3 separate regions of the Homo sapiens genome follow, and regions 2 and 3 are each linked to region 1. The links come from fine-mapping of genetic effects on gene expression. A gene starts in region 1. Each other region holds a variant in brackets. All regions are shown on one strand. Distances are from middle to middle.

What was found. PIP is the estimated chance that this variant, and not a neighbour inherited with it, causes the effect.
Region 2: its variant is the best candidate, but not a certain one, in a credible set for the expression of SPTAN1 in whole blood (INTERVAL, PIP 0.50).
Region 3: its variant is the best candidate, but not a certain one, in a credible set for the expression of SPTAN1 in whole blood (TOPMed, PIP 0.55).

Annotation. Positions count from the first base shown.
Region 1 is chr9:128,548,062-128,556,241 of GRCh38, reverse strand. It overlaps SPTAN1 (spectrin alpha, non-erythrocytic 1), which reads right to left and starts at 3,655. Exons shown (of 57, transcript NM_001130438.3): 1 at 3,546-3,655. It overlaps LOC101929270 (a long non-coding RNA gene), which reads left to right and starts at 3,829. Exons shown (of 4, transcript NR_188457.1): 1 at 3,829-3,874. RefSeq lists an enhancer at 707-1,206 and silencers at 1,398-1,692, 3,242-4,011.
Region 2 is chr9:128,445,149-128,453,328 of GRCh38, reverse strand. It overlaps the pseudogene LOC100129352. Among named protein-coding and RNA genes, the nearest start is that of ODF2, 6.8 kb to the left of the region's middle. The variant C/T (reference allele first, on the strand shown) is at 4,407.
Region 3 is chr9:128,588,096-128,596,275 of GRCh38, reverse strand. It overlaps SPTAN1 (spectrin alpha, non-erythrocytic 1), which reads right to left. Exons shown (of 57, transcript NM_001130438.3): 21 at 7,333-7,467; 22 at 4,651-4,799; 23 at 3,234-3,293; 24 at 1,903-2,101. Among named protein-coding and RNA genes, the nearest start is that of SPTAN1, 40 kb to the right of the region's middle. The variant C/T (reference allele first, on the strand shown) is at 4,566.

The DNA of each region.
Region 1 (8,180 bases):
TGTTTTTTAATTTTTTTTTTTGAGACAGAGTCTCGCACTGTCACCTGGGCTGGAGTGCAATGGTGCAATCTCGGCTCATTGCAACCTCCAACTCCTCGGTTAAAGCGATTCTCCTGCCTCAGCTTCCCAAGTAGCTGGGATTACAGGGGCCCACCACAACACCCGGCTAATTTTTTGTATTTTTAGTAGAGATGGGGTTTCACTATGTTGGCCAGGCTGGTCTTGAACTCCTGACCAAGTGATCCACCCACCTTAGCCTCCCAAAGCGCTGGGATTACAGGCATGAGCCACCGCACCCAGCCCGAGAGCTATTTTTTAAACATGAAAAGGTAAGCTCTATTATAGAAATTGTGGTGGAAGAAGTCAATGCAACAGGAAACAAACCCAAGTTTACAATATTTGTCAAATTTTAAAAACACAATTTTTACTATGTATTTTCAGATTATTTTCTCCAAATATCTAGGATAATATGTTTAGTCCCTTGGTTCTTAAAAACCAAGTAGCCACCAATAAAAAGTCAGCAAACACTACATGCAAACACCAGAATGGTGGTAAGAAATTAATATATTCATGCCTTAAAGAGAAAGAGAGGGAGGTTAAAAAAAAAAAAAAAAAAAAAAAGGCTTTGCAAATTTTCAAGTAAATTTACTAATACTTCTGATAATTTAACACCAAAAAACCCCAAACAAATCCTAACCAATTTGTTTAACAGAAACGTCATGCAGGCAGGGTTTTTTTCCCCCTTTCTTTGGATCATTCAACCTCTTTGACACGAATATGCCTTCACTGCAAGCCAGGCAAAACCAAAAAGGCAACCCGTTTTCTGCATGCTCGTCAAATACCTGGACTCTGCGTTTACGAAACGATGACAACATGATGGAGGAATGTGGAGTCTAAAGAGGGAGGGGGAAGAGCAAGATAACAAGCTTCTAAGGGCAAACGGAACAAAATCATGAAGAAAACAGATTATTTAAAAAATATGAATACAGATTAAAAATCCAATTTCAGATATTTTTTCAGTGTCTTCTCTCTGACATTCTGTATAGCGTCTAAATCCCACAAGGGATTTAAAATGTGGAAGGAGAACCAAGGTTCCCAGGTCTTGGCAGTTACTTTCTAGATATGCTGCCCTGGTCAAGTCTCATTCTCCTTGGGGCCTCAATTTCCCCACTTGTTAAAGTAATAATACCGAATATACTTTTTCAAACTAAACATGCCTTCCTCCTGAGGATCCCAGGACAAGATGATTCCTAAATCCCCTTCCATTCAGCAATAAAAGAGCATGACTTCATGAAATTGCCACAAAGTAGAACTCAAGCCACAAAGATCTGACTTGGGCCTAGTTTGCCAGTACACTTACTTTACAAAATACTATTTCCTGTTCAAAATTGGTACAAGAGGAATATGCAAAAAAGGTGGAAGAGAGGTGATGGTTTGCAGCACAGCTGCTCCAGTCAAGTGGCCCCCAGTGATGAGCTATGCAGTCCTCCTCCTCCTCCGCATTCCTGGAGTCAGCATTTGCCACTAGGGCGTTGCATTCTTCTACAGTACAGCCGCAGCTGATATGCTGCAACAGATGAGTGCGTAACTAGTGGGATCCCTGCATAGCCCACGGAGGACTGATTACAAAGGCAGGCCAGCCTTGAACACACTTGTCCATTCTTAGTGTAGATTCAGCAGTGACAGGACATGGGGGACTATTCCTGAGATCCACTTTTCAGGATCTGCAGTTGACCCCCAACTTTGGATGAAGGCAGGTAAGAAAAAGCAGAAAAAATTCTAACCCAGGGAACCAAAAGACATACTTAAAACAGCTCTCCCCATGTGCACCTCTTCATCATATTGCTTGACAGGCTTACACTGCAGCCTGTGACATACCAGATTTCTCCAATTATTAGATGACTACAAAACACACTGCCAAGACCAAAGCATATCAGAGAATCAGTTACTAGGCTGATGGTTTGCCATAAGAACTGCTTCACACTTGTCCAGGATGAAGCAAAAATCCTCCTTTCCAGTCTCTCCATCAAGGTCCCTGGATAACAGTTAACACACTTTGAGGGTCCCTTTGAGTAATTATTGGCCCAGTTACTAAAAAAGGCTTATTGTTAATTTCCTGCACAGAGGCCTTTACTGCAGCACTTTTTTTTTCCTCCGCAGCACATTCAATTTGACCTTTCAAAATCTAAGACATTAGTTAGCTGCAATGAAAGGGAAAATAAACGACTAGTTAAGGAGTCGGAACCTTGACTCAATGGCTTCATATAGCTGAGTGTTCCTCCTGCTATTTCCAAGATTTTCTGTTTCCTGGCTCCAAGACACCCCCACCCTTCCATCTTTGATACATTCTGTTTTACTTAAGGCCAATTGCTATGACGACGCAATTTCTCAACACATTATGAAAATACTTCATATGGCCTCTCTCCTGTTCTTCCCGAACAGCCATGATGGTAAGTTTTTCTAAAATAACATGATGAAGACAGAACAAAGGGCTTAAATATTTTAGGATCTATTATATAAAAGAGATCTGATTAGATGTTGGAACAGTTCAAGCATCATCTCAACCCAGCTTTCTGAGCTATTTAGGCTTTTCATTTAAAACATATTCAACTTTTAACAAGGCGCTTATTTAAAATATATTTTACTCTAGTACATCAGAGACTTTTGAAAGCGATGTTCTAGGGGAAGCGTCTAATCAAATTCTCAGGGACAGCTTTCAAACAAAAGACTGTTCTATCATTCAACAGTGGTATGGTAGAATTTTTGACACTGTATCTCGACTCGAAAGACCCAGTCCCAGGAAACACACACACAAACAAGAACGCTAAGCTATTAAGTTATTTGATTTGAGCCACATACCATGCAAGCACTGCATTTACCTATTATTTACAAGCAAATCACAACTAGGAAGAAAGAAAAATGTTTATTACAAGGAAAGAAAAGGAGACGGCCAGTCTCAGACCCTTCTGCGTTCAGAGAGACGGCAGAGATTCGCCATGCAGGATGAAATTAAGGTCAGAGAGCCGTTTACGCTATGCTCGGGCTCCCCGGGCTCTTCCTCCCTCTACGGCTGGCCGGCATTGCTGGTGCGATTCGGAAGAACGAGCTGCAGAAGTCGCTCCCGGCCGAGGGAAGGGACCGGGGGCGGTGCGGGGAGCGTTCTGCAGGGAGGCGGCTGGCGAAGATCCCGACGAGGGAGCCCCCACCCACCTGCCGCAGCCGGATGGGGCAGGGCAGGGCCGCGCCGCAGCCAGGCTTGGGGGTGGTTGGGAGGGACCCGGCGGCCTCGCGCCCCCTCCCCCCGTCAGTGACATTCCAGCGGCGGCGCCGAGCCTCGGCCCGGCTGCTCCTCCGCAGCCCACGCGCCACAAAAGCAGCGGCAGCGGCTTCCCCCACTCAGCCGAATGGAGGCAGCCCCGCGGCCCGCCCGGCTCACCTGTCCGCGCGCCGGCCCCGCCCCGCCTGAAGAGCTGCCCAGCTCCCACCCGGGGGTCGGCTGCCCGGGGCCCCGCTCCCTCCCGGAGCTCCCCGGCTGCCCCTCTCACCGGCTCTCGGGGGGTGAGGGGCGTGGGTGCGTCGGGCCGAGGGGTGCTGAAGGACCGAGGAGCCTCCGCGGCCTCCGCTCCACACCGTTCACTCCGCAGCGGGTAGTGGCGGCGACGCGCGCGCCCCGCCTCTTTTATAAGCGGCTACGCGCGCTCCCGCGGCGGGCGGGCGCGAGCGCCGGGGGAAGCGCCCCGGCGCTGCGCGAGGGGTGGGGGAGCGCGCCGGCGGAGCAAAGGGGGCGGTGCTCCCGCCGGCTCGCCGCCCGACCGCCCGGCGGAAAGGGCCGAGCGATCCCGGAAGGAGCCGAAGCGACAATGCGGGGGAAGAGGTGAGCGAGGGGCGGGCCGCGGGAGGATGGGGAAATGGGGCGCGCGCAAGGGGTGAGGGGTGATGGTGCAGTGAGGTCACTGCCTACGCCCTGGCGGTAGAGACGCTCCCGCCTCACCTCCCTCCCCGCAGCTTGCGCCCCGCCACCGCCCGCCCTGCGGACAGTCGTCTGCATCGCACCACTCCGCCCTGGGAGCTCTTCCAGGACTGCGGAGAAGGGCGGGGCGGGGGTATCGCTGCAGTCTGGCTGGGGATGCTGCGCGCCCCGGCCGGAAAAACGCCCAGTCCCAAAGGGTGAGATCACCCGAGTGCGTCTCTTCCTGCTCACTTTCCCGAGGAGGAGGCTGGCGCTGGGGTCCCAAGTCAGCCTAATTCGGTGGGGGCTGGGGTCAAGAAGACGCGGATGATTTGGGGCCCCGGGTTTGAGGAGGTGGTGAGAGGAAAAGGCCAAATCCGAATCAGAAAAAAAATTAAGTCGACTAATTTGGGGCATAAAGCTGTCATTCTGGGATTTGGAGAGTTAATTTCTTATGTTCTTGGAGATTATGGGGGAGGAAACGGCAGCGGCAAAATAATAATTTCTTACATTCCTGCAACAAAAGCTTTCTCACAGGTCGCCAGTGGAATAGGCTACATTCATCCTATTTCATAAACAAGACATTAAGGTTCTTTCTGGCACAATTAATCGAACTTGCCTTGTGTACTAGGCACTATGCTAAGTATTTCGTGTTACCTTTTCATTTCTTAATCTTTGCAATAATTTTATGAGATGTTTTCCCATTTTACAAATGGGCACTCTTACATAATGCTCATGTAGGCTAAGTCTCTTGGCCCAGGTCAGGCAGCTACCAATTGGAAGAGCTAGGATTTACATCTCAGCAGTCAGAACCTTCCCTTTGCAACCGTATGTGTATTGCCTTCAAATAGGAAAGGGAGGCATTTTGATGCGGGTGGCTGCTGGGGTGCAGAAAGAGAAAAATAAGATTCTCAGAATTTCTGATACTTAAAGTCCTAGCAGTTTAAGGTCCTGGCTCTAAACTCTGTAGCCAGAAGCCCTGGATTAGGAAGCCCTTTCCCTATCCCCATTCCGGTGACAGCTGGGCCGCAGCCACTGGGAGTAACACCCAGATCATTCCTGTGCAGTCAGGCAGACGGGGAGCTCTGCAGCTTAGGAAGGCTTCAGCCTCCTGGTTACCAAGCAGCTCTCCTCTTTAAATAAATATAAAGTCATTGGACACTGCACCAGAATCTGGGCCCAGACCTGGCCCTGAGCTTCCTGGCCCTCTGCAGTTTGGCTTCTTTCCCCGTGCCTGGGACCTGCAATACGGTTTCTAAGCTGTCCTGGCTGTAGCCATGATACTGAGGAAAAATTTCCCTACCCACTCACTCCATTGGAGTGGAGAGAAAAGCAGTGACCACACCCCAGAAGCTGCTTTAGAGAATCTGTGTAGGAGAAACGTAGGAGCTGAGAGGCATTTCCTGCAATCTTCTATGTAGAGAAAACAGCGCTGAGCAACTCCTCCCTGGAGTGTGCATTTCTGAGAACAGCTGATGGTATCCGTGGCCTCTTCTCCAGCAGGTTGCAGTAAAATGTTTGATCAGATATTCAGCTCTGGGTACAAAATGGCTAACACAATTGTAGCTCCCTAAAATTTCCAAGACCTTCTGCTCCAGCAAAGAAAGCACCTTGGGACTGAGGGGCAGGAGCTGTTCAAAAGGGAGGGTTTTTCTATTAAATCACCCTGGCCCCATAGTGAACTGGGGGTTCTGCTGCTTTTGCTGGATGCAAAATGGAGACCTAAGAGAGAGCTCTGTATTGATAGAGAAACTAAAATCTTATTTGATTCTTTGTGTGATCTGAGACATGACCAAGAAACAGTATCCCCAGCGCTCTCCACCTCCCACCCACTCACCCTGCCTTCTCTGCACTTGGCACTTGAAACCAGCCATTCTTCACTGTTCTGTTGTCTGCCTACCTCACCTCCCACCAGTTTCACCATATGCCTAACACCCTAGTAGGTGTGGAAAGCTGGGGGAAAAAACAACAACAGAAAAAGCACAGGACAGTGTAACGACTTTGTAACCAATCAACTCCATGTTCTCAGTCACACCTCTCCTGGCCTCCTAAAAAGCAGAGGGTTGGACTGAATTCTCAACTCCTTTTTCTAGTTTCAGCAATCCTCAGAAGGTTTGATAGGCACCCTAAGCTTAAGCGTCTAGATAGTCCCAATACTTTTTCAGGTTGTTGAAAAGGTCAACTGTTGGAAAACACACTAATTGTGGTGATGTGTCCATATGTTCCAGCCAGGGAAAGTCACTTGCCCACTCTCCCTGGGAGAGACCCCTTCCCCTCCCCTCCCCTCCACACCCTGTCTCACCCCCTGCAAAGATAACAGGCAAGCACTTCCACTATTTTTCTTCCCTAGAAGGGAGCTGATTGGGAAGAGTCATGCTGGCAAGTGGACTGCACTTCCCATATGACATTCTGCAGTGTCAGAGCTGGCAAGAAATAACACAGCTCTTCAAATCACAGTGCCTGGATGAACCTTGAAGGCTTTATGCTAAGTGAAATACGCCAGACACATAAGGATGAATACTGTATGACCATTCCACTTATATGAGATCCCTAAAATTGTCAGATTCATAGAGACAGAAAAAACTGTTGTTACCAGGGTCTGAGGGGAGGGAGGAATGGGTTATTATTGTTTAGTGGGAAAGTTTCCGTCTGGGATGGTGAAAGAGAGTTCTGGAGAGGATGGTGGTGATGGTTGCACAACACTGTGACTGTACATAATGCCACAGAACTGTACACTTACAAATGGTTAGGCAGGGCTTGGTGGCTCACGCCTGTAATCCCAGCACTTTGGGAGGCTGAGGCGGGCGGATCACTTGCGGTCAGGAGCTTGAGACCATCCTGGCCAACATGGTGAAACCCTGCCTCTACTAAAAATACAAAAATTAATCGGGTGTGGTGGTGCACACCTGTAATCCCAGCTACTCGGGAGGCTGAGGCAGGAGAGTCGCTTGAACCCGGGAGGCGGAGGTTGCAGTGAGCCAAGATCGCGCCATTGCACTCCAGACTGGGCGACAGATTGAGACTCCGTCTCAAAAAAAAAAAAAAGGTTAAACTTTTTATGTTCTATATATTTTACTACAATCAAAAGACAAAGCAAAACACAAGCCCCTGCTTCTAAAATCAAGCACCACATTAGAGAAGCAGCCTGATAGGCTCTGGGAGTGTGGCCTTACCAGGGTTTTAAGACTCCAGGTGACAGCAGAGATGTAAACTCCTCCCTCCCCTCCCCTAATCCGACCTTGTAATCTGGCTCCGGTCATTTCACATCTGTTCCCTTGCAGGGCTGCCTGCTAGGCCTGGTCAGTCCGTGTCCCTCCTGCTTACCTTGAACCCACTACTACAGTTAGTTTCACAAATCACGTCAAACCTTCTCAACAAGTTTCAGTTGTTTCCCATTGCCTACGGAATAGGCCGAAATTTGCAGCCTCCACAATCTTGTTCCAATTTACCTTTTCACAGCATCATTCCCTACAGTTCTGCTCTACTGGTCTGAGGTTAGCCTCTTTCCAAAACATGTTATTTCTCCAACTCCATGCTTTTGTGAACAATTTTTTCCTCCAATTAGAACATCCTTTCCCAACACTCATGCCTCCTTTCTGCCTGAAAATCTTACCCATTTTGAGTATATGTAAGTAGAACCTTTCTGGAAGAGCAGTTGGCAATGTGGATCAAAATATAAAATTTGCATGCCATTTGACCCAGCAATGTTAGTTACATCTAGAAATCTGCCTTAAGCAGGACAAGATGCATTTTCATTCAGGACGGGCGTGGTGGCTCACACCTGCAATCCCAGCACTTTAGGAGGCTGAGGCAGGCAGATCACTTGAGCCCAGGAGTTTAAGACCAGCCCGGGCACCATGGCAAAACCCCATCTCTACAAAAAAATGCAAAAATTAGCCAGATGTGGTGGCTTGCGCCTGTAGTCCCAGCTACTCAGGAGGCTGTGGGAGGATCACCTAAGCGCGGGAGGTCAAGGCTGCAGTGAGCCATGACTGTGCTACTGCATTCCAGCTCAGGCAATAGAGTGAGACCTTGTCTCAAAAAAAAAAAAAAAAAAAAAAAGAATGTTAATAATTTAAAAAAATATATTAGGCATAACCTAGTCACCAAGTGAAAAATGATTAATTACGATTCATAAATTCAAGACTATATTCATGATATAATACTTATTGACTTGAGAAAATATTTGAAGTGTTACTGAATTTTAGGTTACATGAATGGTACTCAGTCC
Region 2 (8,180 bases), 100 kb after region 1:
CACGGTGTCTCACGTCTGTAATCCCAGCACTTTGGGAGGCCGAGGCAGGCAGATGACTTGAGGTCAGGAGTTCCAGACCAGCCTGGCCAATGGGCGAAACCCCATCTCTACTAAAAATACAAAAAAATTAGCCAGGCATGGTGGCGGGCACCTGTAATCCCAGCTACTCGGGAGGCTGAGACAGGAGAACTGCGCTAACCCGGAAGGCAGAGGTTGCAGTGAGCAGGGATCCCGCCACTGCACTCCAGTCTGGACGACACAGTGAGACTCCATCTCAAAAAAAAAAAAAAAAAAAAAAATCACCGGGCATGGTGGCTCATGCCTGTAATCTCAGCACTTTTGGAGGCTGAGGTGGGAGGATTGCTTGAAACCTGGAGTTTCAAACCAGCCTGGGCGACATAGGGGACACCATCTCTACAAAACATTTTTAAAAGTTAGCCGGGCATGGTGGCACATGCCTGTAGTTCCAGCTACTTAGGAGGCTGAGGTGGGAGGGTCACTTGAGCCTGGGAGTTCAAGACTGCAGTGAGCCGTGATTGTGCCACTGTACTCAAGCCTGGGTGAAATAGTGAGACTCTATCTCAAAAAATAAACATAAATAAATAAACATAAATAAATATACACATTTTTATACATACATATTATATGTAATATACCCAGGCTAGAGTGCAGTGGCATGATTACAGCTCACTGCAACCTCAAGCTCCTGAGCTCCAACGATCCTCCCTCCTCAGCCTCTTGAGTAGCTAAGACTGCTGGTGCGGGTCACCAAGCCCGACTAATTTTTTTTTTTTTTTTTTGAGACCGTCTCACTATGTTTCCCAGGCTGGTCTCTAACTCCTGGTCTCAAGTGATTCTCCCACCTCCCGAGGAGGTGCATCAGTCTCCCAAGTAGCTGGGATTACAAGGACAAGCCACTGCACCTGGTTGTAATATAAACTTGTATGAGATTGCTCTGTCACTGCCTGCTGGCCACCCCAGTGTCCCCACTCGACCATGGATTCCTTGTGGACTAGGGTGACATCACAGTCATTTCTGTATCTCCAGTAGCCAAACCAACCTGTAAACGGTAGACAATCAACAAAAAAAATGTTGAATGAATGTATGGATTAATAATACTATTAATAATGCCACCTAGTACATTAAGTGGGAGGGAGGTAGTATTCACGGGAAGGGAGGTAGCATTCCAGAGAATGCCCTGGGTACCCCTTGTAGACCTCACCCCCTCCCTGCAGGAGAGGACGTTAGCCAAGCAGCATCCCAGCTCCCAATCCTCCTGCGAGCCATCAGTCAGGAACAGCTTCACCCTCTTAGAGGTGAGCACGGAGCAGTCGGGGATGGTGGACAGGGGTCGGGGGAGCCCAGGCTGGGCCCCGCTTCCTTGGGTCACCTGGAGTAAATATCGCTATCAGTGGTTCTCAAACCAGAGTCACAGGCTTGTTAAAACACAGATTACAGGAACCAATTCTCTAAAAGTTCCTGATTCGATAGGTTTGAGATGGGGCCGGATAATTTGCATTTCTTTGTTGTTGTTGTTGTTTTTGAGACAGAGTTTCACGCTTGTTGCCCAGGCTGGAGGGCAGTGGCATTGATCTCGGCTCACTGCAACCTCCGCACCTCTGGGTTCAATCGATTCTCCTGCCTCAGCCTCCTGAATAGCTGGGATTACAGGCGCCTGCCACAACGCCTGGCTAATTTTTTGTATTTTTAGAAGAGACAAGGTTTCATCGTATTGGCCAGGCTGGTTTCGAACTCCTGACCTCAGATGATCCACCCGCCTCGGCCTCCCAAAGCCCAGGGATTATAAGAGTGAGCCACTGCGCTTGGCCAAAAATTTGCATTTCTAATAAATGTCCAGGTGATGCTGGTGCTACTGGCCAAGGATCACATTTGGAGAACCACAGAAGTATTCTCCAGACCCACAGGCCACCCCGAAGCTCAGAGGCTATAAGTCTGTCTGATCTCTGCATCCTCCACCTCCCCAGTCCCCATGGAGAGTTGAGAGGAACTCCTGCTCTGGCCAAAATGGAGCTGATGGTTTACACAGAAACATCCAGGAGTATGTGCATTTCAGAAAATAAGGGCAACCTGAGAAATTCCCTTGCCCCAAACACACAAACCACCCAAACCAGAAACAGTGTTCATCCTCCACTCGTCTCTAGAGTGTCCACTTCAGGAGCGCAGGGGCTGGGCCTGGGCCAGGATCTCCAGCCCCTGCAACTGTGGGAACCCTCCAGGCCAAGTTCAGATGCTCCCTCCTCCATGAGGCCTGCGGTGGCTCCCACTTCTCAGGATGCACTGATGGCTCCCTCCTGGGTATGGGTCCCAATATCCCTGCTGTAAGCACTCGTGTGTGTACGGAAATCTTGTGCCACCTCCTACTGGGTGCTCTCTTAAGGCAAGGGCCACTTCTTCATGTCCCACAGAATCCAGCACAAAATAGATGCTCTGAGAGTTTCACTTTAGAAGTCCAATCAAGGATCAAATAAACTTTAAAGACTTCTTTTGGGGAGCCAGGCACAGTGTGGCTCATGCCTGTAATCCTAGCACTTTGGGAGACTGAGCTGGGCTTGAGCCCAGGAGTTCAAGACCAGCCTGGGCAACATTGTGTCTCTACAAAAAATACAAAACTTAAAGCTGGGTCCGGTGGCTCACGCCTGTAATCTCAGCACTTTGGGAGGCTGAGGCGGGCAGATCACGAAGTCAGGAGATCGAGACCATCCTGGCTAACACGGTGAAACACCGTCTCTACTAAAAATACAAAAAAATTAGCTGGTTGTGGTGGTGGGCACCTGTAGTCCCAGCTACTCGGGAGGCTGAGGCAAGAGAATGGTATGAACCTGGGAGGCAGAGCTTGCAGCAAGCCGAGATTGCGCCACTGCACTTCAGCCTGGGCAACAGAGCAAGACTCTGTCTCAAAAAAAAAAAAATACAAAACTTAGCTAGACGTGGTGACACTAACCTGTAGTCCCAGCTATTTGGGAGGCTGAGTTAGAAGGATCACCTGAGCCTGGGGAGGTTGAGGCTGCAGTGAGTAGTGATCGTGCCACTGTGCTCCAGCCTGGGTAACAGAGTGAGACCTCATCTCAAAAAAAAAAAAAAAAAAAAAAACTTCTAAAACTTTTAGACTTTTGGGTCTAAAAGTAATGTTAAAAATTTGGGAGCAACCTAAATATGCATCAACAGAGGAATCAATTAACATAGTACATCTATGTTATCTGTATACCAGTTTAAACGCATTAGGTACATCCATAAGTAATAATAGGAGAAGATCCCCAAGACATACCATATGATCCTATGTATGCTAAAACATAAACTGTAGGAGCCAGGCATGGTGACTCACGCCTGTAATCCTAATACTTTGGGAGGCCTAGGTGGGAGGATCACTTGAGGCCAGAAGTTTCAGACCAGCCTGGCCAACATGGTGAAACTCTGTCTCTCCTAGAAATACAAAAATTAGCTGGGTGTGGTGGCACACACCTGTGATCTCAGCTACTGGGGAGGCTGAAGCATGAGAATTGCTTGAATGCAGGAGGTAGAGGTTGCAGTGATCCAAGATCACCACTGCACTCTAGCCTAGGCAAAAGAGTGACACTCTGTTTCAAACAAAAAAAAAGACAGGAAATCTTGTCAAAAGGGTTAGGCCAGTTTATATCCAACCAACAGTTTCTTTTTTTTTTTTTTTTTTTAATATATGTTAACTGCTGTTTTATTGTTATTATTATTTATTAATTAGAGATGGGGTCTTGCTATGTTGCCCAGGCTGGTCACGAACTCCTGAGCTCATGTGATCCTCCTGCTTCAGTCTCCCAAAGTGCTAGGATTACAGACATGAGCCACTGCGCTGGCCTATTTACTGCTGTTGACCTTTTAATGTGTACCTTACAGACTTTTCAAGGCAAATGAAAATATTTTTCACTTAAATCAACTCATATTACACTTACTATTCAACAACCTTTTTCTCTGATTTAACATGGCACAGGTACAGCTGTCTTTCTGTGTTGGAGCCCCAACCAACAGTTTCTGAGAATGCATAAACTCACCCAGTGTTTACTGTGTTATAAACAACAGGAGGGATTTTGCCAGTCTTACAAGCAACGAATATGCCCTCTGCTAGACAAACTATCCCTGCATGTAGAAAACTGAAAGTCTCTCAATTCTAAGAGATTTTTGTTTTGTTTTGTTTTGTTTGAGACAGGGTCTGGCTTTTTCACCCAAGGTAGATAGGCGAATTGCTAGAACCTGGGAGGCGGAGGTTACAATGAGCTGAAATGGCATCACTGTACTCCAGCCTGGGTGACAGAGCAAGACTCTCTCTCAGAAAGAAAAAAAAAAAAAAAGGAAATGTATTGTCTGGCAGTTCTGGAGGCTGGAGTTCAAGATCAAGGTGTCTGCAGGGCTGTGCT[C/T]CTTCTGAAGGTTCCAGGGAAGGATGTATTCCCAACCTTGTTCTAACTTCTGGTGGTTCCTTGGCAGCATAACTCCAACCTCCATCTGGTGTTCTGTGTGTGTGCTTGTGTCCAAATTTCCCCTTTTTGTAAGGACATCAGATATACTGGATTAGGGACCCACTCTACTTCAGCAGGGCCCCATCTTAACGGATTACATTTACGATGACCCTATATCCAAATGAGCAGCTGGGTGCAGTGGCTCATGCCTGTAATCCCAGCACTTTGGGAGGTGGAGGCGGGCAGATCATGAGGTCAGGAGTTCAAGACCAGCCTGGCCAATATGGCGAAACCCCGTCTCTACTAAAAATACAAAAATTAGCCAGGCATGGTGGCATGAACCTGTAGTCCCAGCTACTCGAGGAGGCTGAGGCAGGAGAATTGCTTGAACCAGGAGGTGGAGGTTGCAGTGAGCTGAGATCGTGCCACTGCACTCCAGCCTGGGCAATAGAGCTAGACTTTGTCTCAAAAAAACAAAACAAAACAAAATAAGGTCACATTCTGAGGTACTGGGGGTAAGAACTTCAACACATGAATTCAGGGAGGATGCAATTCAACCCATAACAGAATGTATAAGTTTAGTTTAAGGATTATAATAAAATAAACACTAACATAGCCAGGACACAGCTTAAGAAAGAAAAGAGGCTGGGCACAGTGGCTCAGGCCTGTAATCCCAGCACTTTGGGAGGTCAAGGAGGGCAGATCACTTGAGTTCAGGAGTTCAAGACCAGCCTGGCCAACATGGTGAAACCTCCATCTCTACTAAAAAAAATACAAAAATTAGCTGAGCATGGTGGCACATGCCTGTAATCCCAGCTACTCAGGAGGCTGAGGCAGGAGAATCTCTTGAATCCAGGAGGCAGAAGTTGCAGTAAGCCTAGATGGCACCACTGCACTCCAGCCTGGGTGACAGAGAGAGATTCTGTCTCAAAAAAGAAAAAAAAAGGAAAGGAAAGAGATTAAAAAATCATTTCAGGCTGGATGTGGTGGCACACACCTATAATCTTAGCACTTTGAGAGCCAAGGAGGGCAGATCACTTGAGCCCAGGAGTTCAAGACCAGTCTAGGCAGCATAATGAGACTTCGTCTCTACAAAAAAATAAAATAAAAAACCCAGCCGTCACAGTGTGTGCCTGTGGTCCCAGCTACTTGGGAGGCTGAGGTGGGAAGATCACCTGAGACTGGGGAGGTGGAAGCTACAGTGAGCTGTGATCAAGCCACTGCACTCCTGCCTGGGCGATAGAATGTTACTGTCTCAAAAAGAAAAAAAAAAAAGTCCAATTTTTTTTTCTTTTTGAGACAGAGTTTCGCTCTTGTTGCCTAGGCTGGAGTGCAATGGCGCGTGCGATCTCAGCTCACCGCAACCACCACCTCCCAGGTTCAAGCGATTCTCCTGCCTCAGCCTCCCAAGTGGCTGGTATTACAGGCATGCGCCACCACGCTCAGCTAATTTTGTATTTTTAGTAGAGACAGGGTTTCTCCATGTTGGTCAGACTGGTCTCGAACTCCCGACCTCAGGTGATCCGCCCACCTTGGCCTCCCAAGGTGCTGGGATTATAGGCATGAGCCACCACGCCTGGCCTAAAAAGGTCCAAATTTTATATCACCTGCAGCTGTGAATAAAGGTTCTCACTATTAGTAGCCATCAAGAATTTCTTAAGAGACTACCATTACAAAGCCTATTTCTCCTGATAAAAAGTTATCAGAAATTGTGTGTAGCTGTTTCAAACATGAAACCTGCCATAAAAAGTTATTTTCATAGAAGCAAGCTCACATTTCACATGTATTTATTTAGCTACAGTGTCTCGTTCTGTCACCTAGGCTGGAGTGCAGTGCTGTGATCATAGCCCATTGCAGCCTTGAACTCCTGGGTTAAAATGATCCTCCCACCTCAGCCTCCCAAGTAGCTGGGACTGCAGGTGCACACCACCACACTCGGCTATTTTTAACTTATTTATTTAGTTAGTTTGAGATGGAGTCTCGCTCTGTCACCCAGGCTGGAGTGCATTGGCGCAATCTCAACTCACTGCAACCTCCACCTCCCAGGTTCAAGTGATTCTCCTGTCTCAGCCTCCCAAGTAGCTGGGATTACATGTGCGTGCCACCATGTCTGGCTAATTTTTGTATTTTTAGTGGAGATGGGGTTTCACCATGTTGGCCAGGCTGGTCTTGAACTTCTGACCTCAAGTGATCTGCCCGCCTTGGCCTCCCAAAGTGCTGGCATTTCAAGAGTGAGCCAGGGCGCCTGGCCCTTGTGCATCCTTCTTGATAAAGAAAGGGAGGTTCCTGGCTGTTATCAGGAGAATGTCAGCTGCTTGCTCTGTGGAGAGCAGAGGAAGAATACAGGCAACCATTCTCTTCTCTTTTTGGATATACATGATCTGTACAAAGTGGTCATCACTAGGCCTCTCTTGTCCAGGCAATTTCCCCCTTAAGTTGTCATACATGCTACAAATTTTGTGCTTTCCGTCATCCATTCTAGCTTTAGGCAATAACTTATTTCATAGTCCTCCACATCAAGGAGTAATCTGTAGGTTTTCTCAATTATGATAAGGGTTTTGTTTGTTTGTTTGTTTGAGATGGAGTCTCCCTCTGTCGCCAGGCCTGGAGTGCAGTGGCATGATCTCAGCTCACTGCAACCTCCACCTCCCAGGTTCAAGCGGTTCTCCTGCCTCAGCCTCCTAACTAGCTGAGACTACAGGCACCCGCCACCACGTCCGGCTAATTTTTGTATTTTTAGTAGAGACGGGGTTTCACCGTGTTAGCCAGGATGGTCTCAATCTCTTGACCTCATGATCTGCCTGCCTTGGCCTCCCAAAGTGCTGAGATTACAGATTTGAGCCACTGCGCTCGGCCATGACAAGGGTTTTTCTCCTCTTGTCTCAAACTTTTGTTTCATCATCCTCACTCCAAGATGTCACAACAGCATCAATCATTTTTTGCTGATTATTTACACTAGAAACAGTCAGCTTTCCCAAAGAGCCCGCAAATTGCACTGGATTATAGGCGCGCTCCAGTTTAGCCACCTGAGGGGTGATGAGCTTGGTGCGCTCCTTTTTCGGGCCATCACCTTATATTTCTTCAGCAGCTGACTGTTTTTCCAAGTAATTCTGGTAATAAAAATAATCCAGGGATCAGTGCTTTGCAGTTGCATCATCTGGAATTTAGGGACCCAATCCTTTTCCCACTGCAACATGAGATTGGCATATGGATCCTTTCAGAGATGATCTTGATGACTGTTCCATTGACTTCCTCTATCTCCTGCACCATTGAGACTCTGATGCTGATTTCTATTCTGTTGCTGTCTCTGATGCAAGAGTCGACAGTGCTGTGGATGAAAGTGAGTTGCGTCTGGTATAAACATTGGGGCCTGAGATCTTAGGTTTTGCAGGTGAAGTCCTGGGCCAGGAGGGTGCTGCTGTGGAGGTGGTGCAGCAGGGGTGGAGCACTAAAGAAGGCACAGAAGCCTGGTGCTGGGGGAAGCATCTGCCCAACCGGCCCTTGTAGTAACTTGGGATTCATAGCAGCAAGTAGACTACCAGCAAATCCAGGGACCCAGGCGAACTGGCTGGGAGACATACATCCAGACTGTAGCGGGACACAGCAGAGCTGGCTTGATGTCCTGTCACTATAGGGAGCAGGATATTGTGGTGGCATTGGGGGCTGAACATGGACAGGCGTCAGACACAGAAAGTGTTGGGTGAGATTGGATACAGCCATCTGCTTAGGTGAGGT
Region 3 (8,180 bases), 40 kb before region 1:
AAAAAAAACGAACAAAACAAAAAAACCCAAAAACAATGTGTAGTGTATCAAACAGTGAAATATTATTCAGCAATAAAAAGGAATGGAGTACTGGTATGTGCTACAAAAAGGATGAACCTGGAAAACATTATGGGCCGGGTGCGGTGGCTCACACCTGTAATCCCAGCACTTTGGGAGGGCAAGCTGGGCAGACGGCCTGAGCTCAGGAGTTTGAGACCAGACTGGGCAACATGGCAAAACCTTGTCTCTACAAAAAATACAAAAATTAGCTGAGCATAGTGGTGCATACCTATAATCCCAGCTACTCAGGAGGCTGAGGCAGGAGGATCACTTGAGCCCAGGAAGCGGAGGCTGCAGTAAGCCGAGACTGGGCCACTGCACTCCAGCCTGGGCAACAGAACACCTTGTCTCAAAAAATAAATAAATAAAAGAAAGAAAACCTAAACAAAAGAAGCCAGTCACAAAAAGTGACATAACGTGATTCCATTTATATAAATGTCCAGAATAGGTAAATCTGGAGGCAAGCAGCAGATGAGTGGCTGCGTGGGCCACTGGGGTTAGGGAGAATGGCAAATGAATGCTTGACGGATATGTGGTTTTCTTCTGAAGTGACACAAATGTTTCGGAACTAGAGGTGGTGGTTGCACAACACTGTGAATGTACTAAATACCACTGAATTGTACAGTTTAAAATGGCTAGCTTTGTGAATTTACCCCAATTAAAAAAAAAAGAGTACTTTCACATCTATTGTAGTTTAGGCTTAGAAAAGTTCTTATAACAACATGTAGAGAACATAGCATATCTTTCCTTAAAACTAAATTTGTCCAAAAAGGTTTCAATTAAAGTCTTTTAAAAATAGCTACACAGGCCAGGCATGGTAGCTCATGCCTGTAATCCCAGCACCTTGGGAAGCTGAGGTGGGCAGATCACTTGAGGCCAGGAGTTCAAGACCAGGCTGGCCAACATGGCAAAATCCCGGTTGTACTAAAAATACAAAAATTTGCCAGATGTGGTCGTGCGTACCTGTAATCCCAGCTACTCGGGTGGCTGAGGCATGAGAATCACTTGAGCCTGGGAGGCAGAAGTTGCAGTGAGCTGAGATCGAGCCACTGTACTCTAGCCTGGGTGATAGAGTGAGACTCTGTCTTGAACAAAAAAAAAACTGAGGCCGGGCACGGTGGCTTACGCCTGTTATCCCAGTACTTTGGGAGGCTGAGGCAGGCGGATCACCTGAGGTCAGCAGTTTGAGACCAGCCTGACCAATATGGTGAAACCTCATCTCTACTAAAAATACAAAAACTAGCCAGGCGTGGTGGTGAGCTACTCGGGAGGCTGAGACAGAACTGCTTGAACCTGGGAGGAGGAGTTGCAGTGAGCCGAGATCGCACCATTGCACTCCAGCCTGGGCGACAAAAGAGAGACTCTGTCTCAAAAGGAAAAAAAAAAAAATTGAAAAAAAAAAAAAAAAAAAGCTACATACATGATGGAATATAATCTATGTAATTTGCATTCCAGTAATTTGCAGTCAGAAATCAAGAGACTCTGGCCAGGCGCAGAAGCTCATGCCTATAATCCCAGTACTTTGGGAGCCTGAGGCGGGTGGATCACCTGAGGTCAGGAGTTTGAGACCAGTCTGGCCAACATGGTGAAAACCTGTCTCTACCAAAAAATACAAAAATTAGCAGGGCGTGGTGACGCACATCTGTAATCCCAGCAACTCAGGATGCTGAGGCAGGAGAACCACTTGAACCCAGGAGGCAGAGGTTGCAGTGAGCCGAAGTCATACCACTGCACTCCAGCTTGGATGACAGTGAGAATCCATCTCAAAAAAAAAAAAAAAAAAAAATCAAGAGACTCAAATCTTTAAACAAATTTTCAGCTGAGCCTGAAGACTGCCCATACCTTCTGGAAGTCATCAAACTTCTTCTGGAGCACCTCAACCTGCTCCAAGTCTGCTCCGACCTCCTCACTTGTCAGAGCGGCTTCCTTCTCATTGATCCATTGCTGTAGTTCATTCGCTTCACGGAACAACATAAACTTCTTGCAACTCTTCTCCAACATGCCTTTACGCTTCTCACCCAGTTCCAGCAGAGAATGATATCTGATGGAATTCAAGAGGGTGACAAGAGGGACAAGGAAGGCAGTTAGCTGTAGATGCTAACATAAAGGCAAACCACGAGGTGTCTCCAAGATGTGGATTCCAGGCTACGAGTTTGTAATGATGATGCCCTAGTAACAGAGTTATCAGATGAAGACGAGGATCCCAAGTACCCACGCCACAGCCTGAGAGATATGCGCACACTGTACTGTTCACAACCAGGTGGCTAGAACAGCCAGGCACACTTATCCCCAGGCCGATTCTGCACTTAGAACAACACAACCACAAGGGACTGAAACCAAGCGCTTAGCACAGTAACACAGGGCTCATGCAACTACAGTGGAGAGACGAGATGAACTTGCTGGGCAGAATGTATACAGAGGGTTTTTCTGTCTTTTATAATTCTCTGAAGAGCCCCCAGGCTGGGGTGAGGTGGGGGAGGGTACACTGAGCTTTAAAATATCCTCATATAGGATGTTTTATCTCCATATTAGTAGGACATTTCTAAAATGATACATTCAGCTCTCAGAAAGTTTTGGCAAGTTCAGAAGGAAAATCAGGCACAGTACTGAGTATCTGTGCCATTCTGTTACTTGAAAGATTTCTTAAGAATCAAAGAATATTCTAACCCTCGGGAACTAAAATACAAAAGGCTGAAATATTATCTTTGAACACGAAAACAACAAACAATAAAAAACTAAAAATTAAAAAAAACTAGAATCATCATCAAATCTAAGTGTCCCAAAGTAAAATAAAAAAGCAATGAGTTACCAAGAATCAGAGCACTTTAAGAGAAGCATATGATTTCCTTCCTACTAAGGAAAACTATAGAACAGGCCTTCAGGTTTGCTGCTGATAGTGGCTGGTCCACCACAAAAACCAACAGGAGGGAGAACCAACACCACTCTGAACACACAGCTGCACATGGAAGCAACCAATGAGATAAGCAGTCATCGACCGACACAGCTGCACCGCGACCTCTTCCCTTGTGAGCCAAAGCTGCTGCACGGACAGGCAGTTCCTCCCACCACCTCATCTTTCTGGATGGACAAAGGCCTTCAAGAGAAGCGGCAGAGGGAGAATGGATAGGGTAGCAGTGGACATTGGTGCTCTGCAAGACTCTCAGCCTACTCACAGTTCTTCCACCTGCTTCATACGCAGAGATACACTGCCGGCCTCCTTAGTTATGCGTGTCCTGCACAGAGGGGGCACAGCAAAAGCATGCACGAATTAGTGGGGTTAATCCACAGGGATGAAAGGCAGCAGCTCCGACTGGTGCCATGATGGTGGATGCTTAATGTTGGGAAACTATGGAGTTATTCAACAGGTCTAAGGAGCAGTCTAAGTCATGAGTGACATGACAGTAAAGAAATAGCAGGAAAATTAGAGGGTTAGTTCACCTTCATTTTCCTGGCGGGTCTGCCATGCTTAAGGCAGATTTTCCTGTGCTGAAAACACTGGTAACTTCACAGAGCAAGGTCAGGGAACAGACTGGACTACCCTTAGAAAGAAATTTTACTGAGTGCTAACAGGCAATTTAGCCACGTATTTGATCTTTTTCCTCTTATATTTATGACCCAGACTACTGGTAAGAATACAAACCAAGGCCAGGCGTGGTGGCTCACGCCTGTAATCCCAGCACTCTGGGAGGCCAAGGCGGGCGGATCACGAGGTCAGGAGTTTGAGACCAGCCTGGCCAACACAGTGAAACCCCATCTCTACTAAAAATACAAAAATTAGCTGGGCATGGTGGCATGTGCCAGCAGTCCCAGCTACTTGGGAGGCTGAGGCAGGAGAATCACTTGAACCCAGGAGGCAGAGGTTGCAGTAAGCCAAGATCACACCACTGCACTCCAGTCTGGATGACAGAGCGAGAATCTGTCTCAAAAAAAAAAAAAAAGAACACAAACCAAAACCTCCCATTCTTATCTCTATAGTAACAGAATCTATAAAGTGGACAAATAACTCTGATCTTACTGAGGATCACTGGAGCCCAAAAATTTCACTATTCTACCCAAACTCTAGTGGGAATGTATTTCCTGGATATTTCCCAAGTGTCCAAAACTGCTGATTCCACTAGTGGAGTCAGAAATACCCTAAAGGAGGGACACAGGGCAATATGGGGGCTCAGCTAGAGGAAAGAGGACAGAGCCATTTCATTACAAAATTCCATTCTCAGAACTCAAAGCTATGGCAGACAGAGAAGCTCTGAAAGCAGCTTTTCAAAGTGGACAGAGCTGTAGGGGCGTAGAGTATCTGAAAATCCAATTTCAAAAAGCATCTCGAACCAAAAGGCAAATGGCAATGATTAGAAAAATTCTGGTTAGGAAAAACTCATGAACACTGGTGGAAAAAAAACAAAGCAATATAAGTCATCAGTCAGGGGTCTGAGACCCACACAGGGAGGTCTGTGGGCTCAAAGTGGGGTGGAGACAGCAGGAGGCGTGCAGGTGGGCTCCAGGAGCCT[C/T]AGGACACGCCTAAGCTTCGGCCCATGTGGAACAGAGTATGCCTATGGGACGCCTAGCCCTTGCGGCCCCCAGTGTCATCCTTACTGATTGTCAATCTGCTCCTGCCGCAGTGCTATGCTGCCTTGCTCCTCCAGGAGATTCTCCCGGGAGGCTGACTGGGCGGGGTCCAATTTCTTCACGTACGCAGCCGGCACAAAACCCTGACGATCGTTCACTTCCACTTTCCACCAATCCTAAGGAAAAAAGAGGGAGAACTGAAAGTAAATTCCTTCTCTGAGAGGGAGAATCCAAGGAGGTCACGTGTATACACACACACGAGAGCGTTGTTTTAAGAGGTCCAAAACGGCCGGCCACAGTGGCTCACACCTATAATCCCAGCACTTTGGGAGACCGAGGCGGGTGGATTACGAGGTCAGGAGATGGAGACCATCCTGGCCAACACAGTGAAACCCCGTCTCTACTAAAAAAGATACAAAAAAAATTAGCTGGACATGGTGGTGGGCACCTGTAGCCCCAGCTACTCGGGAGGCTGATGCAGGAGAATGGCATGAACCCAGGAGGCAGAGCTTGCAGTGAGCTGAGATTGCGCCACTGCACTCCAGCCTGGGCGTCAGAGCGAGACTCTGTCTCATAAAAAAAAAAGGTCCAAAATGATATTAAAATCACTTTCTATAAGGTCTGATAATTCAGTCCCTTCCTCACCTGCCATACCTGCAGAGGGTCACAGGCAGAAGAGCAATGCCGCCTGCCACCAAGGCTGGCCTTCTCTCTGCTTAGATGCTCCAGAGCTGTGCTAACACTGTAGCCACCAGTCACATGTGCCCACTTAACTTTCATTGAGTTAGAACTCTTTTTTATTGGAGACAGAGTCTTGCTCTGTTGCCAGGCTGGAGTGCAGTGGCACGATCTTGGCTCATTGCAACCTCTGCCTCCTGGGTTTAAGTGATTCCCCTGCCTCAGCCTCCCAAGTAGCTGGGACTACAGGTGCACGCCACCACGCACAGCTAATTTTTTTGTATTTTAGTAGAGACGGGGTTTCACCATGTTGGCCAGGATGGTCTCAATCTCCTGACCACATGATCCACCCACCTCAGCCTCCCAAAGCGCTGATATTATAGGCGTGAACCACCACGCCTGGCCCTTTTTTTTTTTTTTCTTTTTTAATATAAATAGAGATGAGGTCTCGCTATGTGCCCCAGGTTGGTCTCGAACTCCTGGGCTCAAGCGATCCTCCTGTCTCGGCCTCCCAAAGTGCTGGGACTACAGGCGTGAGCCACCATGCCCGGCTTCATCGAGTTATAATTTAATTAAATAAAACACCCAGTTGTACTAGCCATATTTTAAGGGCTTACTATCACACGTAGCTAGTAGTTACTGCAGAAGCAGCACAGACACTTACATTTCCACCATCACAGAAAGTTCTACTGGGCAATGCTGCTCTTGAATAAACCAAAGTTAGACCACAAGTTGGTTTAGGTTTAAATTAGACTCAATAGAAAGATAAGAATCACAGGTTTCCTCAAATTATCATGACAAGGATAAATAAGGTGTGGGAATGGGAATAAACTTGCTCTTAAAAATGGCCAAGGACATTTCTCCAGCCTTAACTAAAACAGAAGGCAGGCCTCTTTCAGGATCAGTCAATCTGTGCATGCTTCAACACCACTGTCAATTCAGAGTGTGTTAGGGAAGAAAGGCTGGTGGACCAGGATGGATTTATTATTGTCATTATTTAGCCTAAAGAAGACAAAGCCTGTGGGGTGAGGTCACAGCTGTCTTCAATGATCTGCTGGGCTGAGATGTAGCTTGTAGTCTGGAGTAAGAACCAACAGGTCGGCCAGGCGCGGTGGCTCATGCCTGTAATCTCAGCACTTTGGGAGGCTGAGGCGGGTGGATCACGAGGTCAGGAGATCGAGACCATCCTGGCTAACACGGTGAAACCCCGTCTCTACTAAAAATACAAAAAATTAGCCGGGCGTGGTGGCAGGCACCTGTAGTCCCAGCTGCTCGGGAGGCTGAGGCAGGAGAATGGCGTGAACCTGGGAGGTGGAGCTTGTAGTGAGCTGAGATCATGCCACTGCACTGCAACCTGGACGACAGAGCAAGACATTGTCTCAAAAAAAAAAAAAAAAAAGGCCGGGCACGGCGGCTCATGCCTGTAATCCCAGCACTTTGGGAGGCTGAGGTGGGTGGATCACGAGGTCAGGAGATAGAGACCACGGTGAAACCCCATCTCTACTAAAAATACAAAAAATTAGCCAGGTGCAGTGGTGGGCGCCTGTAGTCCCAGCTACTCGGGAGGCTGAGGCAGGAGAATGGGGTGAACGCAGGAGGCGGAGCTTGCAGTGAGCTGAAATCGTGCCACTGCACTCTAGCCTGGGTGACAGAGCGAGACTCTGTCTCAAAAAAAAAAAAAAAAGAAAAGAAAAAGAAAAAAAAAGAACCAACAGGTCCAAGTTATACAGAAAGCAAACTTTGGCTTGACAGGACAAAAATTCCACCTAGAGACACTCAATGGTGAAAATAAGCTATCCTTCTGAGTGTGATTATCTATGCTTCTTGCAGGTATTCAAGAAGACAGATTAACTTCTTGGTCATACACAGTACTGCATAAATGTATGTCACGTGGGGGATTGGTGAGGAAACTCATGTCTTTGAATTCTAAGCCTTCTCATTTCAGGGAGACATGCAACCCACAGAAACCCAACTGAGCATACGTGGAGGTGCCAGCGTGGAACAAACACACAGCCACTCTCTGTGCCTTGCCTTGTTGGTGCTGTTGAGTAAGGTAAGGATATCTCCCTTCTTCATGGTGACCTCTCGGGGACTCTTCTCCTGATAGTCGTAGAGAGCCAAGACCAGCTCCTTCCCAGTCTCATCATCCGTGGGGGCCACTTGTTGCTAAAAATCCAAAGGAAGGGCAAACATGGTAAAAACACGTCCGCGCTGAGTCATCTAAGTACAGAGCAGATTCAAATGCCACCAGCTGTACCAAATGTACCAAATATACACTCATGAGAATTCTTCACTGAAGCTACCAATAAAATCTGATCCAAGAACTTTAAATTTTTGGTATCTTTAAAAAAAAAATCTCATTTTGTCTGGGCACGGTGGCTCATACGTGTAATCTCAGCACTTTGGGAGGCTGAGGCAGGCAGATCACCTGAGGTCGGGGGTTCGAGACCAGCCTGACCAACATGGAGAAACCCCATCTCTACTAAAAATACAAAACTAGACAGGCGTGGTGGTGCGTGCCTGTAATCCCAGCTACTCGGGAGGATGAGTCAGGAGAATCACTTGAACCTGGGAGGCGGAGGTTGCGGTGAGCCAAGATCAGGCCAATGCACTTCAACCTGGGCAACAAGAGTGAAACTCCATCTCAAAAAAAAAAAAAAAAAATCTCATTTTAAAGTAGGGCCGGGCACAGTGCTCATACCTATAATCCCAGCACTTTGGGAGGCCAAGGCGGGCAGATCATGAGGTCAGGAATTCAAGACCAGCCCGGCCAACATAGTGAAACCCCATCTCTACTAAAAATACAAAAATTAGCTGGGCGTGGTGGCGGGCGCCAGTAATCCCAGCTACTCAGGAGGCTGAGGCAGGGTAATTGCTTC